Linked DNA regions of Homo sapiens: region 1 is linked to region 2. The links come from fine-mapping of genetic effects on gene expression. A gene starts in region 2. The other region holds a variant in brackets. All regions are shown on one strand. Distances are between the middles of the regions. Region 1 overlaps RUNDC1 (RUN domain containing 1). Region 2 holds the start of TMEM106A (transmembrane protein 106A).

Evidence for each region. PIP is the estimated chance that this variant, and not a neighbour inherited with it, causes the effect. A credible set is the group of variants that fine-mapping cannot tell apart.
Region 1: its variant is the best candidate, but not a certain one, in a credible set for the expression of TMEM106A in transverse colon (GTEx, PIP 0.71).

Annotation. Positions count from the first base shown.
Region 1 is chr17:42,982,781-42,988,152 of GRCh38, reverse strand. RUNDC1 (RUN domain containing 1) reads right to left here. Exons shown (of 5, transcript NM_173079.5): 2 at 739-897. Among named protein-coding and RNA genes, the nearest start is that of RUNDC1, 4.9 kb to the right of the region's middle. The variant A/G (reference allele first, on the strand shown) is at 3,034.
Region 2 is chr17:43,209,969-43,215,308 of GRCh38, reverse strand. TMEM106A (transmembrane protein 106A) reads right to left here and starts at 3,434. Exons shown (of 9, transcript NM_145041.4): 1 at 3,387-3,434; 2 at 2,915-3,082; 3 at 2,057-2,288; 4 at 1,418-1,481. The coding sequence starts at 2,267. NBR1 (NBR1 autophagy cargo receptor) reads right to left here. Exons shown (of 21, transcript NM_005899.5): 21 at 3,621-5,340. The coding sequence ends at 5,235.

The DNA.
Region 1 (5,372 bases), 230 kb after region 2:
GTCTACCCAGGTCTTACCTAAATAAATACAGTATTAAAGTCAGTCTGGATTCCTGGCATGTTTATCAAAAGGTAGTGAGTAGTAGGAAAAAGCTAGATTACGGCCAGGTGCGGTGGCTCACGCCTGTAATCCCAGCACTTTGGGAGGCCAAGGTGGGCAGATCACCTGAGGTTGGGAGTTCGAGACCAGCCTGACCAACATGGAGAAACCCCATCTCTCCTGAAAATACAAAATTAGCCCAGCATGGTGGCGCCTGCCTATAATCCCAGTTACTTGGGAGGCTGAGGCAGGAGAATTGCTTGAACCCAGGAGGCAGAGGCTGTGTTGAGCTGAGATTGTGCCATTGCACTCCAGCCTGGGCAACAAGAGCAAAACTCCACCTCAAAAACAAAATAAAACAAAACAAAAAAGCTAGATTACATTGTATGATGGGCCCAAGTAGAATTTTTTAAGTGATCAAATGAAGAAATTATTGTTATATTCTTATTTCTATTATTAATTACAATCACCAAAAAGAAATAGCTCAATTATCGTATTACAAAACTTTGGAATCTGTGTTTTCCATGTGTGAGCAAAGAAAGGTTCCTCATAGCAGTAAAATTTCCCTTTGATTTGGGCCAGCAGAGGGATTCTCAGTAAGGCCAAAGGAGAACTGAGCTGAGAGAGGATGCCCTGTGAATGCTGGAAGGGACAAGTTAACCTCGGGCAGTGGTGGAGGTTCCTCTGGGGTCTGCTCACCCGCTGTCTTTCCAACACCACGGACTGTGGCAGCGAGTCATAACTGCCCTCTTGATAGGCAAACGTTTCCAGGTCATCTAGCTGGGTCTTGAGCTGCAGTATCAGTTCTTTCTGCTTCTCCCTTTGGGTTTCCAGACGCTCTTGCTTTTCCTGCTCACTCTAAGGCAAGAAAATAATTGGGTCTATTATGCAGGCAAAGGGAAACTCAGGGCACATTAAGAATCTGCTCGAGCCAGTAATGACCAATAAAATATAAGATGTTTCCAATAATCCAAATGAAATACACAATTCATACGATAGATTCAAAAGTAAGAATAATTATTTCATCCTAGGCAATTTGTCAAATGGGTGTTTTCTTTAAGAAACTATCTGTCCCTCATTGGAAATAGGATATTAATACAATGAGGCTTTTTGTTAAGACTGCCTTTTTTCCCCCAAAGGTCTAGTTAGGGTAGAGACAATCTATCTCAGCCAAGATAGCCTCCCAGGAATTAAGACATGCCATTCTCCACAGCCAGTTACCATAACACAACTCCTGATTACTCTGTGCAGCCAAATTTTGCAAAAGAATCTGGGGTAAGGGTGTGGAGAGAGGCTTTAAAACTCATAACCAGCTGGCCGGGCCCGGTAGCTCACGCCTGTAATCCCAGCACTTTGGGAGGCCGAGGCGGGTGGATCACGAGGTCAGGAGATTGACCATCCTGGCTAACACAGTAAAACCCCGTCTCTACTAAAAATACAAAAAAAAAATTAGCCGGGTGTGGTGGCGGGCGCCTGTAGTCCCAGCTACTTGGGAGGCTGAAGCAGGAGGATGGCGTGAACCCGGGAGGCGGAGCTTGCAGTGAGCAGAGATCGCGCCACTGCACTCCAGCCTTGGTGACAGAGCGAGACTCCGTCTCAAAAAAAAAGAAAAAAACTCATAACCAGCTTTCCTAAGGTTCACCAAAGTCCCTTTGATGTACGATAGACCACTTCTGAAAAATCAAAAGAATCAAACGCACCAGGAGTGGTGTCTCACGCCTGTAACTGCAGCACTCTGGGAGGCCAAGGCAAAAGAATCACTTGAGCCCAGGAGTTCGAGACCACCCTGGGCAACACAGTGAGACTTCATCTCCACAAAAAAATTTTTAAAAATTAGCTGGGCATGGTGGTGCATGCCTGTAGTCCCAGCTACTTGAGTGGCCGAGGCGGGAGGATTGCTTAAGCACAAGAGGTCAAGGCTTCACAAGACCCTGTCTCAAAGAAAAAAAAAATTAGCCAGGCGTGGTGGCATGGTGGTCCCAGTCACACAAGAGGCTGGGACAAGATGATGGCTTGAGTCTAGGAGGTTGAGGCTGCATTGAGCTTTGTTTTCACCACTGCACTCCAGCCTGGGCAATAGGGCAAGACTCTGTCTCAAAAAACCAAAACCAAAAACAAAAGAGTAAAAGGCAAGTGCCTAGGCCAGTGAAAAAAAACCAAAAGCCACATAATGGGGATGTGAAGGTAACAACGTTTTTAAAAAAAAGTATCTGTAAGTTTTGCTGACTAGTGACTCCTTTTTCAACTGTTGGCCACCAGTAGTTTCTGCATTTCAACTAATAAAAATGCTTCAGGGTGGTAAAGTCTTGTCAACGTATTCTCAAACACTGGTTCTTCCTTGTCTTTCTTGAGTCTCAAAAACAAAAAGCAAAACCAGCAAATCATTTGTAGGGGCAAGGCTGCGTCTTAAACTAGAAGTCTACAGCGTATTACATTTAACCTTAAAACGGTACTTACCAAGCCCTGAAGAAGTAAGTAATGAGAGAGAAGAAATGAAAAAAAAAAAAAAAAGAAAACAACAAATTAACTTTTTGTTTAAGTATTTAAAATGCAATCCTCTTGCTTTAACTTTGCTCAACATGAAAGCAAGCCTTTTCTCAGGGCAGTCCCTCTGTAATCCTTTCAGAGCGCAGTTGCATACTGTTAGAACCCTATCCCACTTCCCCATTTGGTGAAGGCCTAGTTCTCCTTTAAGAGGCTTCCTGATTTCCCCAGGCATAACTAAACATTTCCTCTAGAGGTTGTTCACACTTCTAGTCTAGCTCATATCACATTATTTGTTTAGGATTCTGTCTCTTCTAGTCTATGAACTCCTTAAGGACAAAGGTTTTGACTTTGAACCACAAATGCCAGGCACAGTGTCTGGCACAAGATAAGTTCTCAACATGCATTTGTTGTATGTTACTGAACTGAATTAAGGAAAGTATGGCCGAACGCAGTGGCTCATGCCTGTAATCCCAGCACTTTGGGAGGCCAAAGCAGGCAGATCACCTG[A/G]GGTCAGGAGTTCGAGACCAGCCTGGCCAACATGGTGGAACCCCGTCTCTACAAAAACTAGCCCAGTGTGGTGGCACGTGCCTGTAATCCTAGCTACTTGGGAGGCTGAGGCAGGAGAATGGCTTGAACCCAGGAGGCGGAGGTTGGAGTGAGCCAAGACCGCAGCATTGCACTCCAGCCTGGGTGTCACAGCAAGACTCTGTGTCCAAAAAAAAAAAAAAAAAAAAAAAGAAAGAAAGAAAAAGAAAAAGAAAAGAATGACAAATTCCAAATAATGAACTCTGAGTGGAGAAAGTTGTCTAACCAGCCTAAGGAGAAAGAACTGTGGAAAAGTCTTTTGTTTTTGTTCTCACTGTTACCCAACTTTATGTCAGGGAAGAAAGAAATCAGCCATAAATTTTGATTCCATTTTCATGACCAAGTCTGTTGAACTCTGTCACTTGCCATGGTAGCTACGATATGCTATTTGCTGGAGTGTGGGCAAACAAGAGAGAACAATGAGCTCTGGTGCAAAGCAGGAAATAACATAAATCATTTCCAGTATGAAGTAAGATAAGAGAAAATATTGGTTTAAAATATTTGGGGTTGAGGTGGGTGGATCACTTGAGGTCAGGAGTTCGAGACCAGCCTGGCCAACATGGCAAAACCCTGTCTCTACTCAAAATACAAAATTTAGCCGGGGATAGTGGCACATGCCTGCAGTCCCAGCTACTAGGGAGGCTGAGGCAGCAGAACAGCTTGAACCTAGGAGGTGGAGGTTGCAGTGAGCTGAGATCATGCTACTGCACTCCAGCCTGGGTGACAGGGCCAGACTCTGTCTCAAAAAAAAAAAAAAAAAACTGGGGGCCAGGTGCAGTGGCTCATGCCTGTAATCCCAGCACTTAGGGAGGCTAAGGTGGGAGGGTGGCTTGAGCCCAGGAGTCAGAGACCAGCTGAGCAACATAGGGAGAGCCCCACCTCTACAGAAAAAATATATTTTTTAATTAGCTAGTCATGGTAGTGTGCGCCTGTGGTCCCAGCTACTTGGGAGGCTGAGCTGGGAGGATGGATTGAGCCCAGGAGGTTGAGGATGCAGTGAGTTGTGATCATGCTGCTGCACACCAGCCTGGGCAACAGAGTGGAAAATAAAAATTTAGGGCCGGGCACGGTGGCTCACACCTATAATCCCAGCACTTTGGGAGGCCGAGTCGGACAGATTATGAGGTCAGGCGTTCGAGGCCAGGAGTTCGAGACCAGCCTGGCCGACATGGCAAAACCCCATCTCTACTAAAAATACAAAAATTAGCCAGGCGTGGTGACGGGCACCTGTAGTCCCAGCTACTTGGGAAGCTGAGGCAGGAGAATCGCTTGAACCCAGGAGGCGGAGGTTGCTGTGAGCCAAGATGGTGCCACTGCATTCCAGCCTGGGCGACAGAGTGAGACTCTGTCTCAAGAAAAAAAAAAAAATTGGCGGGGTACAGTGGTTCATGCCTGTAATCCAGCACTTTGGGTGGCCAAGGTGGGTGGCTTGCTTGAGCCCAGGAGTTCAAGACCAGCCTGGGCAATATGGTGAAACCTCATCTCTACAAATACAAAAACTAGCTGAGCATGGTGATGCTCGCCTGTGGTCCCAGTTACTCGAGAGGCTGAGGTAGGAGGATCTACTGAGCCTGGGAGTCAAGGCTGCAGTGAGTCCTGATCATGCCAGTGCACTCTAGCCTGGCAACAGAGTGAGACTCTGTCTCAAAAAAAAAAAAAAAAAAAAGGAAAAAGAAAAAAAAAGGTAAGTGGTAAGAAGTAAATCATTCAGTTCAATGATATTCCCTACTCTGGTCCTACCTGTTCACCTGTCAATGTATTCAATGTATAAATACAAGATTACAACTTGTAGGTGGATTGAGCACTACTTTTTTTTTTTTTTTTTAAGGTGGTACAATGTTTCTTTTGCCTTTTTTTTTTGAGACAGGGTCTTGCTCTGTTACTCAGGCTGGAGTGCAGCGGTATGATCATAGCTCTCTGCAGCCTCCAACTCCTGGGCTCAAGTGATCCTCCTCCAGCCTTCGCCTCCCCAAGTGTTGGGATTACAGTCATGAGCCACTGCACACAGTCTTTTTTTTTTTTTCAGTTTTTAATTTTTTGTGTGTTTTTTTTTGAGACAGAGTTTCACTCTTGTTGCCCCAGGCTGGGGTGCGATGGCACGATCTTGGCTCACCGCAACCTCTGCCTCCCAGGTTCAAGCGATTCTCCTGCCTCAGCCTCCCGAGTAGCTGGGATTACAGGAATGTGCCACCATGTCTGGCTAGTTTTTTTTTTTTTTTTTTGTATTTTTAGTAGAGACGGGGTTTCATCATGTTGGTCAG
Region 2 (5,340 bases):
AAGAGATAGTACTTTGTTAGTATCTTATGATGTGCACTGCTAATTTCTTTTTTTTTTCTTTTTTTTGAGATGGAGTCTTGCTGTGTCGCCCAAGCTGGAGTGCAGTGGCACGATCTCGGCTCACTGCAACCTCCACCTCCCGGGTTCACGCCATTCTCCTGCCTCAGCCTCCTGAGTAGCTGGGATTACAGGTGCCTGCCACTATGCCCGGCTAATTTTTGTATTTTTAGTAGAGGCGGTTTTGCCATGTTGGTCAGGCTGGTCTCAAACTCCTGACCTCGTGATCTGCCCGCCTTGGCCTCCCAAAGTGCTGGGATTACAGGGTTTTTTTTTGTTTTTTTTTTTTTTTCAGATGAGGCCTCGCTCTGTTGCTCAGGCTGGAGTGCAGTGGCATGATCTTGGCTCACTGAAGCCTCCACCTCCTGGGTTCAAACAATTCTCCTGCCTCAGCCTCCCAAGTAGCTAGGATTACTGGTGTCTGCCACCACGCCCAGATAATTTTTCTATTTTTAGTAGAGACAGGGTTTCGCCATGTTGGCCAGGCTGGTCTTGAACTCCTAACCTCAGGTGATCCGCCTGTCTTGGCCTCCCCAAAGTGCTGGGATTACAGGCATAAACCACCACGCCCAGCCTGATTTCTAATTCTGGTATAGTGGGGTGGCGGAGAGGGTTCGGCTTGGTGGTGACTCCCAGGTTGACACCAGGACCTTGGGAGGAGGTTGAGGGAGCTCCATGTCAGATGGACTCAGATCACAAACACAGTAGGCCCCAGGTCTGCCTGAGGTTCTGAAGTATCCCAGAACAGCGGACAATAGGTTTTTCATCTCTACTAGAAGAAAAACAAGCAAATCTGAACTGCCTCAGCAAGGGAGGTGCTTAAGAAAAATAACATTTTCAAATCAATTGCAGCCAGGGCCACATGCTTGTTCCCTCCTTCCTGGGAGGACTTGCAGAGCTACCAGATCCTTCCTGTCTTGGAGAGGGGGCCATGCTTTCTGGAAGCAGTGATGCTTAAGGAAGCCCACCAGGTGGCCTCAAGTGACATCTGCTGTGCCCACAGCTGCTGCTTTTTTCTTTCTTTCTTTCTTTTCTTTTTTTTTTTCTTTTTTTTTTTTTTTTTGATAGAGATGGGGTTTCACCATGTTGCCCAGGCTGGTCTTGAACTCCTGAGCTCAAGTAATCTGCCTGCCTTGGCCTCCCAAAGTGCTGGGATTACAGGCATGAGCCACCACACCCGGTCCAGGAGCTTCTAAATCAGGAAAAAATCCTTGGACGTAAGGAGCTGGTACCTCTGAGGCTCAGGCTTTCTATGGAAGAACTAATAGGAAGAAATTAAGGGAGATCAAAACAGGGGAGACAAAGGGAGCAGCCCCCAGGGGCAATGGCTTGTGAAGCTAGGGGAGGAAGGGGGGCTTACGTGTGCTTGGGCTTCAGCCTCTGGTCCCCATAGGGAATGAGAGCCACCAACTGCTTCTCCAGCTCTAGAGAGAGAGAAGGTGAGAGGGAGGGCCAAGATGCAACTGTGACAAATATTTACTGTGCCAGCTTCCCAGAAGCACGCCTCCACCCACACCATAGAGCAATGTTAGAAACATGCCACATCTGCCCCAGAGCAGGACTGGAAGCACTGGACTCTGCTACCAAAGTTGGCAGCTCAGCTTTGCCATCTCTAGAATGGAAGTGAGATTTCCACTAATAGGTATGAAGAATCTCTGAAAGTCACCAGCAAATCAGAGATGCCCAGCATCTTTGGAAAGTTCATTTGTAACTTCCTGAACTGAATGAATCCTAGGACACACAGTGTTGCTCAGAAGCACAGTGGCTAGAATCCTTCTTTCCCACAAGGGGCTGGAGAATACAACCAGGGAAGGAGGGCAGGTTTTTGCAGGGAACCCAAGGATAGTTAAGTATCTCCCTGGCCAGCCTGAGACTGGGAGGTCAAGAGCTGGGAGCAGATCTAACCCCATCCAAGGAGACTCAGAGGGGCTGCCCCAGGCCAACAGGCTAAGAACTTTCCCTGGATTCCAGGCTATTTCCAGAGCCTTGGGCCACTCACCTTGGGGAATCTTGCCACTGCCCTGGCAGGTGGGACAAGTCACGAAGCTGGCATCAGCAGTTCCTTCACAAGGCACACAGGAACAAAAAGACTTGCTGCTACCGGTGCTGGAGTAGTTGACAGCCTTGCTGCCAATGGCTGGTTTGGAGGACAGGATTGACTTGTTCTCATCCTCCCGCCAAGAGCCCAGCTGGGAAAACGTCTTACCCATTCTTCAGGGGCGGGGGTTTCACTAATGAGAAAAGACCAAAGTTCAGTGCTAAGCTTGTTAGCACTGACGCCAGATGTAATTTTGGTTTGAAGTTCTCAAGACTGGCAAGGAGCTTCACCACAGTTTAAGCAAGCTCAAGCCTAAGGAAGATAGGATGTGAAAAACTGGGTGGTCACATGGGACTCTCAGAAGTCTCAATGCATTTCGACTCCTTTCATTATTTTAAAAGAGACCAATCTGCCTACAAAAGGGAAAACAAAAGAAAAGCAGAAGTTACTTCACTTTAAGGAACTTCCATAAGTGATTGTCAGAGCATTTAATTTTTCTCTGGAAAAGTTGCTGAGCTGTCATTCAGTTTAAGGGAAGGAAGTTGGATAGGGCAGAAAAGAGATTCTTTGAATCAAGGAGAGAGGAGGCCAGACTGGTCACAGGTGTGGTTAAGACCCCTATCTAAAGAAGCCCTGGGAGAAAGCAGACACCTCACTGCTTTCTGAGGCGGGGTAAGAAAGCCTGAGGAGGGTCATAGTGATACCAGGGTCTGTCTTTCACTAGGAAAACTCAAGGCTAAATCTGGACTCTGTGTGACAGAACGAGGCCGGCAAGTGAGCCACACAGATCTTTCTGGGCTAAAATATAGGGATGCTCACCTTGTTCAGGTCTGGGATCCCAGGCTCCTCAGCCGCACGAGGGCGAGACTTCTGGAGTGCGTCTTTGGGGAGAAGGGCCTCTAAGGGCAGAGTGGGCTGGGCTGGGCTGAGCTGAGCTGGGCGGTGGTGGGGAGAAGCACCGCCTGGGGCCGGCAACCGGCCGGAGTCCTAGGGGAACGAATGTGCCGCACTGGAGAGTGGGGATAGTAAGGACGCTGACCTCCCCGAAGGGCCAAGCCGATTCCTGGGCTACATGGGGGCTCTGCCATGGGCCGACCGGGTGGAAGCGGACGGAGAAGGTGTGACTTCATTAAGGGAGGATTTCAAGTCCCACCACACACCCCTAGAGGCCGTTAGTCAAGCTTGGTACCCGTGCGGGGGGCGCCTGTGTGTTGGGCGAGGAGGCGGCAACAGGAGGTGTCTTGACCTCCGAAAGGTAAAGTAGGTATAAAGGGTCTAGGGAGGGCCTTACCCGCGGACGACTGCAGCGACAGAAACGGAAGAGAGTGGAATCGAAAATGCGGGAGCGAACACTCCCCTCAAGCTTTGACTCAGTGCCCAGGGAAGTCCCGCCCCAGCCCCTAAGGGCCCACCCCCCCGTCCCCCGGTCCGCCCCTTCGCCACGCAGCAGCCTGAGACGCTGCCAGCTCTTCAAACGTTACCCGAGGGCCCGGACGCTGCTTCCGCAAGGACTAGCCAGTCCGGGTAGGAATTTCCAAGAACATTTATTTCACCATTCTTTAGGTGGTTATGTACAAGTACATACATAACCAGGAGAGCAACCCGGGCCCTCCTGGCCCTCGATTATAAAACTCCGATGGTCAAGACAGGTCCCACCCATCAACCCAATTACACCCTGCCGCTCCACCTTCTACCCGGAAGCCCCGATTAAAACGTTTTAAATAATGAACGGCCTGGCTGGCTTGCAGTTTGAATCCTGGTTTATTTAAGTAGCATTCAGGAGTTATACTGTAAATAAACATCATTATGGCTAATGACTAATTAAAATCACCATTCATTACAAATACCAACCAGGTTAGATAATACTATTAACTATCTTTTCCCCTTCGGTCTGGGGTTCATATTCTTCCTTTTCTGGAAGTCATTTTCATGGATAAAATATTTAGCATTTTTTGTTACCTCTTCCTTCACCAACTGTACTCAACACACTTCTGTAAACAGAGTGAGAACCTGGGTTCATGGACAAGCTCTTTTCCACTTATCTTCGGGTTAAACCAAAACTTTTTCAGCAACTTTGCCCCTGTCCAAGTTTTGCAGAACACCAGCTGCCTCTTCCTGTTCTAGGCATTCTAGGGCTAGATACCTGTGAACGGACTTCAAGCATTAAAGAAGTCATCAGCATTTCCTATACCTCACACACACTCATTTGCCCACCCTGAACTTCACTGACATTAATTTAGGAGCCTGCCTTTTGCCTTTCACATGTTTCTATTTCCCCCACTGTACTGTAAAATAAGATCTGCCCTGACATTAAGAAAAAAGGCAACTGTTAAATTTACTTTTCCCTTTAAATAACGGGATTTTTTCCTTTTCTATAAGATTAGCAAAATATTTCACAATACCTATATTTTTTCCCTTAAATAAAAATGTATGCAAAATTACTATAATAGACATTGCTCAATAGGTGCTGGTAGGTTTATCAGCACACTCTTCCTCCTTTCATTGAAATGCGGAGATTCCCTTGAAGTTGGATACTCTTGAATGCACCATGGAGTCTTTAGAAAGCAACGGTGCCAATTATTAAGTATTGCAGGAAAATTACTTTCTCCTTGAGAGAGGAAGAGTAACAACATTTCTATCATGCTCTGGGTGTTATTTCAATGCCAAATAACTATGAAGCTTGAGGTGGATTACAGAAATTATGAGAATAAGAATTATGAGAATAATTCTTAAAAACAACTTCCGAGGTTAATGTCTTTCAAAACCTGAAAATTAACAGATATCCCCATAAAAAATCCACATTAGCCAAAGAAAAATACTCAGTTTCAATAAAAGCAGAAAGAAAAATGGTTCTATATGAAGTTGAAGTTACACTTGTCAATGCACTAAAATAGTTTTATCCAAATCAACTGAAAAACTGTCTTCATACTATTCATCCAATGTCTAAAGTGAAAATTTAAGTTCTGGTCTTTAGTTTGCTCCCCAAAATACTGTAGCAGGTATTGTCTTGGTAACTCAACGATGGGCTCTATACAGATTCATCAGATTAAAAATAAGCAAGGGCTTCTATCCCATACCCCAATGACAGAATAAAGATCATCTCTGAGCAGCAGGCAGTTATTTAATACAAGGTCACTCCTCAATAGCGTTGGCTGTACCAGTCGTTGTTGTTTAACTGAAGAAGTTCTGTCACAACCTGCAGGATATTGTAATTGTGTTTCTTCAGCAGCCGTAGGTTCAGCTGC